2 linked regions of the Homo sapiens genome follow. The protein of the gene in region 2 interacts with the protein of the main gene of each other region in a biochemical or structural test. Each region holds a gene or a part of one and is shown on either strand. Other genes may lie near its edges.

Region 1 (3,920 bases), on a different chromosome or scaffold from region 2:
GCAGGCCTGCTTTGGCCGCTCAAGGGAATACCAGCTCAACGACTCAGCTGCCTAGTGAGTGCTCTGAGGGGCTGGGCAGGGCAGGGCAGGGGCTGGGGGAGGACTAAAGGCTGGACCGGAGGGCCTGAGAACCCCCAGAAGGACACTGCTGGTCTTTGCTTATGAAACCGATGACTGTTAACCAAGGCCTTCCTGTTTTTTGGTTTGGGGGGTGGGTGGGTGTCACGTTACTGAAAGGCCAGGAGGAATGACAGGCAGGTGGCTTATACAGTACATCTCTTCCAGGCCAGTTGAGTCTGATCTGTCTTGACAGTCTTCTAAAGAACATTTGCGGCCGGGCGTGGTGGCTCACGCCTGTAATCCCAGCACTTTGGGAGGCTGAGACAGGCGGGTCGTGAGATCAGGAGATCGAGACCATCCTGGCTAACACGGTGAAACCCCGTCTCTACTAAAAATACAAAAAATTAGCCGGGCGTGGTGGAGGGCGCCTGTAGTCCCAGCTACTCAGGAGGCTGAGGCAGGAGAATGGCGTGAACCTGGGAGGTGGAGCTTGCAGTGAGCGGAGATTGCGCCACTGCACTCTAGCTTGGGTGACAGAGCAAGACTCAGAACATTTGCTGCCACCTGTTCTGTGCCAGGCTTCAAGGACACAGTGATGAGTGGAGCAAAGTCCCCATGCAGTGACAATTTAGGGTGTTAGTGAAAAGGTAGAGGTGGAGTTGGCCCAGAGACAGGATTGCTGAGCTCTGAAGGAGAGTCAGCCAGGGGAGGAGTGGATGAGGGGATTCCAGGCAGGGGCATAGCATGTGCAGCATCTCGGGGTGGTGGGGAGCTGGCTGTGCTTGAACATAGGCTGTGGAGGCTGGCTGGAGGGGGCCACAGGGGAGGAAGTTATCTGGGAGGTGACAGGTGTGTGTGTAGGTCAGAGCCCCTGGACCTCAGCTGTGACCCTCGCTGGCCCTAGGCTGAGGAATTACAAGGGGTCCCAGGAATCCCAGAGGCATGACAAGCCTGCACCCTTTCCACAGTTCTGAACTCCTTCCCTGTGGTATCTGTCATGTACTTGGACTGGTGCAGGGTGCTGAGGACCCCACGGGGAACAGGATAGACAGGCTAATAGCCATTGAGGATGGCTGCAGGGGACATCCACAGGCTTTGGATGGTGTCACCAGATAGGCTGCTGTCCCTGTACTCTAGCCTTCCCCTATCTCTGCTTAAGCCAGTCCCCTCTGACTGGAACACCCTTTTGCTCCTATTGTTCATCCAATCCTGAGCCTACCCATAGGGTGGATTTCAGCAAGGGTGGGTGGGAGGAGGAGGAGGGTCTTGCCTGGCTGTGATTCCTGAGCCCTGTCCAAGCCACATGAACAGCCTCCTCCTACCCTTCTTACATGGCCTGAATGCTCTTGTGAATATGTACCCCCTACAGGAGCTGTGGAGTCACAGCCAAATGCTGTGGGGGCCCCCAGGCCTCACCACTGCCCCTCCCTGAGATCTCTGGCCCAGCCACCAGCGAGCTTGGGGTCAGAGCAGCAGGGACCTTGGTGCCCATGATACTCAAAGGAAGCAGGAATAGAGCCACCTCCAGGCCACCTCCTGCTTCTCCATCATCCTCTTTCTCTATTCTCCAGACATTAGGCACCCACTGTGTGCCCAGCACAGTTTTGGGAGTGAATACAGGCCCTGTTCTCCCAGTCAGGTTTAAGCCTTGATAGCTCCCCCTGGGAATGGGTTGCGGATTGGAACACCACAGGAAGCAGGGCTCCTTCAGCCCCTCTTCGCAGCAACCCTCCAAGTGTGCAGCGAGTCAGGGGGTCCCTGGGGCGAACCCACCTGTTGGGGAAAAGGGAGAGGCTGGTGTGGAATGCACCATGGTACCTCCACATTGAGGACTCTGGCAGTAGGGGGCGGGGCATGGTATGCGGGTCACAGCACATGCGTCATCCTTCCCCATGGCCCTTCCTGTTTTTCTGTTTTGTCCCTGCTACTCTGAGATCATTTCCCTCTGGCCTGGTTTGGCCTGGGTGCTGGTGGGAGCCAAGGGCCAGCCCCAGCAGCCTTGCCCCAGGAATGAAAAGTCAGCTCTGGGCAGCAGCCTGGAGGCCTGGGACCAGCCTCCAGGGCATGGCAGGGATATTGAGGCAGGCAGCAGAGGCAGGCCCTGCAGGGGTAGCCTTGATACTAATTAAGGGAACTGGTAATGAGGAGCCCCTGGGACCCCTGCCAAGCAGGTGTCTGTGCCCTCCCCCTGAGGAACCCAGATTTCATTGGGCGCTGGGCAAAGAGCCCACTGGACCTGGCAGGCCCCAACCTGTCCAGCACCACATCGAGGGACCGCACCCGGCTGCTCTGCGGCTAATGCCGTAATTGCGCCCATTAGCATCCTGAATCCTTCACCGAAGGACTAATTTGCCTCCTCCCACCCTCTTTGCCTATAGCTCCAACATCCTGGATCCTGTCCGAGGCAGGTCTGGCTCAGACCCTGGGTGCTGGAGCTTGGCTGGCTAGCTGTCCACAGAGCTGCACCTCCTCCCATTCCCATTCTACAGGTGGGAGGCCGGGGGCTCTGAGTTCAGGTTTCTTCATTTGAGCAATGAGGTAATGCAGGCAGGGGTTAAAGAAACAAGGGCTGTGCCTAGGCCAGGCGCAGTGGCTCACGCCTGTAATCCCAGCACTCTGGGAGGCCGAGGTGGGCGGATCACCTGAGGTTGAGAGGTCAAGACCATCCTGGCCAACATGGTGAAACCCCGTCTCTACTAAAAATACAAAAATTAGCTGGGCGGCAGGCGCCTGTAGTCCCAGCTACTCAGGAGGCTGAGGCAGGAGAATCGCTTGAACCTGGCAGGCAGAGGTTGCAGTGAGCCAAGATCATGCCACTGCACTCCAGCCTGGCAACAGAGTAACACTCTGTCTCAAAAAAAAAAAAAAAAAAAAAAAAAAAAAGCAAGGGCTGTGCTTGAGAAATGGCATGGGAGGGAAGGGGCCTCTTGCAGCTGGCCCAGGGTCCAGCTAAGGAAGCCCCATGCTGGCCCCCACTGACCCTCCCACCCCCCATCCCCAGCTACCTGAACGACCTGGAGCGTATTGCACAGAGTGACTACATCCCCACACAGCAAGATGTGCTACGGACCCGCGTAAAGACCACGGGGATCGTGGAGACACACTTCACCTTCAAGGACCTACACTTCAAGTGAGCGAGCATGTGGACAGGTGGGAGGGGCAGGACCTGCCAGCCTCTGGGGTAGCAGAGGCAGGGGCTGGTCCAGGATCCCCCAGCCCCACTGAGGTTTTACAAGGCTCATGTGTTCTGGGCAAGCACATCCTCACCACCTAGTGAACCAGCAGTCAGGATCCACGCCACCTCTGCCAGCTGCTCACAGCCTCTGCTGCTCCTGCCTGATGTGGCTGCAGCCTGCCTGCTGTCCAAGCTCCTGGCCCAGAACCAGGGGTGAAGTGGGCAAGTGTGGATGATTCCAGAAGGTAGCTGCCCTACTCTGGGCAGGCCTCTGTCCTCAGTCAGCCAACCTGAGAAATGGGGTAGAAAGCCTCCCCCAGGCTCCCTTCCTGGAACTAAGGTGATCTATATCTGCAGGATGTTTGATGTGGGTGGTCAGCGGTCTGAGCGGAAGAAGTGGATCCACTGCTTTGAGGGCGTCACAGCCATCATCTTCTGCGTAGCCTTGAGCGCCTATGACTTGGTGCTAGCTGAGGACGAGGAGATGGTGAGAGGATGAGAGAATGCTGCGGGTGGGGGCAGCGGGCTTGGGGAGTGGTGGCTAGCGTTGACCTTGCTATTCTACCCCCAGAACCGCATGCATGAGAGCATGAAGCTATTCGATAGCATCTGCAACAACAAGTGGTTCACAGACACGTCCATCATCCTCTTCCTCAACAAGAAGGACCTGTTTGAGGAGAAGATC
Region 2 (3,920 bases):
AGAAAAAAAAAAAGAGCTTCTTTGCAAACCAACTCTCTGAGGGCTCTTATGATCCTTAATGAGTAATTGAAGGGGGTAGTTCTACAGATGAGGAATGGTGCTAAACACTTGGAAAATAGCCATCCTCTGGAGGAAATGAGTGGAATCCATATTCATGACTCACTTCTGGGTCTTGGCTGGTTTCTCTGGCTTCTCATTGTACGGAATGACAAGGTCACCAACTGAGTCTGGCTTCTGGAGGAGAATTCCCAACTTGATCTTAATCTCCTTGGCCCTGAAAGAAGAGACACAAGGGGAAATGAGGACACCACATGTGCATACAGATTTTAAGAAGAGATTTCTTCCTGTGTCAGAGAAACAAAAATGAACAAAATCCCATTTCACTTTTATTTTTCTTGTGGCAGAAAGAATACTAATGCAGAAATTAGGATATATAAGTTCTAATAAATAGCATTTATCAAGCTCTTAGTATGTCCTTCATTAATTTGCACTACATTTTAATCCTCATTATTGTTTTATATGTGTTCTCTCATTTTATATCTGCAGACACTATAGTACTATTTCCATTTTGCAGATGAGGTCACGGAATGACAGGAGTTTAAATAACTTAAGATAACCCAGCCAGTATTTGGTGGAGACAGATGTGAGCCCAAGCTGTCTGATGCTAGAGTTCCCAGGTAGAACTCTGCATGCATTGCCTACTAGTCTTCTGAGGGCTCTGGTCTTCACTATTGTTAGATATATGACATTTGGAAAAAATGATCACTTTTTTTTATTATTATTATACTTTAAGTTTTAGGGTACCTGTGCACAACATGCAGGTTTGTTACATATGTATACATGTACCATGTTGGTGTGCTGCACCCATCAACTCGTCATTTAGCATTAGGTATATCTCCCAATGCTATCCCTCCCCCCTCCCCCTACCCCACAACAGTCCCTGGTGTGTGATGTTCCTCTTCCTGTGTCCATGTGTTCTCATTGTTCAATTCCCACCTATGAGTGAGAACATGTGCTGTTTGGTTTTTTGTCCTTGCAATAGTTTGCTGAGAATGATGGTTTCCAGCTTCATCCAGGTCCCTACAAAGGACATGAACTCATCATTTTTTATGGCTGCATAGTATTCCATGGTGTATATGTGCCACATTTTCTTAATCCAGTCTATCATTGTTGGACATTTGGGTTGGTTCCAAGTCTTTGCTATTGTGAATAGTGCCACAATAAACATATGTGTGCATGTGTCTTTATAGCAGCATGATTTATAATCCTTTGGGTATATACCCAGTAATAGGATGGCTGGGTCAAATGGTATTTCTAGTTCTAGATCCCTGAGGAATCGCCACACTGACTTCCACAATGGTTGAACTAGTTTACAGTCTCACCAACAGTGTAAAAGTGTTCCTATTTCTCCACATCCTCTCCAGCACCTGTTGTTTCCTGACTTTTTGATGATCGCCATTCTAACTGGTGTGAGATGGTATCTCACTGTGGTTTTGATTTGCATTTCTCTGATGGCCAGTGATGATGAGCATTTTTTCATGTGTTTTTTGGCTGCATAAATATCTTCTTTTGAGAAGTAAAATGACCACTTTTTACTGCCAGACCTCAGTTCCCTCATCTGTAAAATGATGACGTTATCCATCATTTTAGATGTTTTTTGAGCTATTTCCAGCTATAAAATTAAATCATTCCACTTGATTATTTATTTCTCTATAAAATTTTTGTTTCCAACTCCTTATCCATTGTTCTCTATGGCTGTCAGACTATCTTATGTGCAGTAAGCCTTGATAAATGAGTACTAATTGCCAAACAACAAACTACAGCAGAATTTACTGCTTCTTTGTATCTTCAGTATTTTAGTGAGTAGATATGGTCAGAATTCTGGGTACTCCTCCATCACGGGATGCAACTATTTTCACGCTCAGTTTTAAAACTAACCTTCTAATCTATCCATCACTTTATCACAATTCTATACTAGAAAAGCACCAGGCAAATCTTAAATATTAATCCATAGGACAAGTTGTTGAATATTGGGAGACCCAAAAAGCTACCCTTTCCCAGTCACCTTAGCACTTTACCCATGCTTTTAAGACAGGGTTCATCATATTGCATTATGGTCATTGACTTATGTTTCTGTTTTTCTACTTGGATATGAGAACTTTTTGATGGTAGGAATTTAGTCTTAAATACTTTTTAACCCCTGTGCCTAGCACAATGCTTGGCAATATAGTAAACATTTAAAAATATTTGCCAAAGTGAACTAAAAATATCTTGATTTTGTTCTTTACAAATCTGCTAACATTTACCTCCCAGTCAATGCTAATCATAACCAAAGTTTTAAAGAGATGTGGTGAAGTTCACATGGCAGCCAAATAGGATTTTACTATTGTACACATACTTTCCTCATTTGTTCACAGGGAGGCTGTGATGAGGCAATTTAAGTAAATGCCTAAGATTTGCAGTTACGGATATTAGGGAAAAAAAATGTAAGGAAACCTGTGGTAACTTATAAAAACTCCATAAATGCCTAATTATAACATATTTTCCTTTAGGCTAGTAAATATGGTTTTGAAAACTATGTTTTAGGAACAGTCATCTCTACAGTGTCATTTCCTTTTCATTTTGTTCTGCTTTCACTCTTTCCCTAAGACCCTCTCATTGACTAAAGCCAACTCAGGTCCCATAGTACCTCAGATCAAGCTCAGCACGGCATTAGGGTAAAAACTGGGACTGTTCTGCCGAGGGAGCTTATATAACATTGTGAATTAGAATAAGTGTCGCTTTAATTCCAAGTGTTGCAAGTTACTTAAATTATCTAATGTTTAGTTCTTTTGCCTAGAAATTTGGACTGATAAAATAGTATATCCTAAGACTTTTTGAGATGATTAAATATACTAATGCATGTGAGTCACTTAGCACAGCATTTGGCATAGAACACGGCTTCTTTAAAGTTAGTTCTAACTACACAATCATTTTTCCAACCCACCGCCCATGTTCCCTAGCTTCGAACATTACATTGAAACATACAAAAAATTCCCCGCAAGTTACTAAGGAATTACTACACCCACAACCTTCTATATTCTACCTCTGGGGACAAGAATTGCCAATTTTATATTTATCTGAAAAATGAAGAAAACATTAAGTGGGGAGGAGAAATGCATGCAATATTTGTGGCTACCCTCTGCTGACTAATGTGCAGTATTACAGTCAGAGATGCAAGGTGCACTAGGACACAGTATCCCACCCAGTCCGTGAAAACCTTCATCCATAATCCATATCCTCCTGGCTCCATAGGTCCCTCCCTTCCTGTGCACCCATCTGTGGAATCCATGCTGCAACTGTTTTCAGTTTCAACCTTGACACAATAGTCCACTCACCAATATTTAGATAACAATGATGTAATGAAAGTCTCTCATGTTTAGGTTTCTGTTTGGTTGGTTGTTTTGGTTTTAACTTTATCCCCCCTCTCAAATTTAGTTCCTTTTTTTTCTATTTCTTGCTCCATTTGAGCCTTTTGCTTTTGTAAAAGGCAGAAAAATATTTGTGTTTGATTTCCTGATGCAAGAATAATAGTTGGAGATTAAGGGATAATTAGAACAAAGAAATCGAATGTATGTAAAAGAATTATTAGTGACTTAATTCATTTATTCCTTACTGATTAACTCATTGGTCATGTTTACTGTGTCAGGCAGTATGCAGTAAATATACAAACACCATTAGGTTTGCTCCTTGCTTTCAAGGTGCTTTTAGCCCGGAGAGGTCTTAGATGTGGAAACAATCACAAACGGGTGCTTAAAGACAGACTGTCCAGAAAGCAGCAGAACTCTCACAGAGGAGCACCAGTGTCCACAACGGTAGATCAGGGGGAACTTCTCAGAGGAGGCAAATGTGGAACTAGAGAATGAGCAGCAGTCAGTCAG

Evidence for each region.
Region 1: the proteins of RGS5 (region 2) and GNAI2 form a complex in vitro, tested with the Homo sapiens proteins (one study listed by BioGRID).

The regions. Positions count from the first base shown.
Region 1 is NC_000003.12:50,253,131-50,257,050, forward strand, and holds part of GNAI2 (guanine nucleotide-binding protein G(i) subunit alpha-2), read left to right. Parts: coding exon 1-54; intron 55-3,061; coding exon 3,062-3,190; intron 3,191-3,592; coding exon 3,593-3,722; intron 3,723-3,806; coding exon 3,807-3,920. UniProt on the Homo sapiens protein: Guanine nucleotide-binding proteins (G proteins) are involved as modulators or transducers in various transmembrane signaling systems.
Region 2 is NC_000001.11:163,168,095-163,172,014, forward strand, and holds part of RGS5 (regulator of G-protein signaling 5), read right to left. Parts: intron 275-3,920; coding exon 164-274; intron 1-163.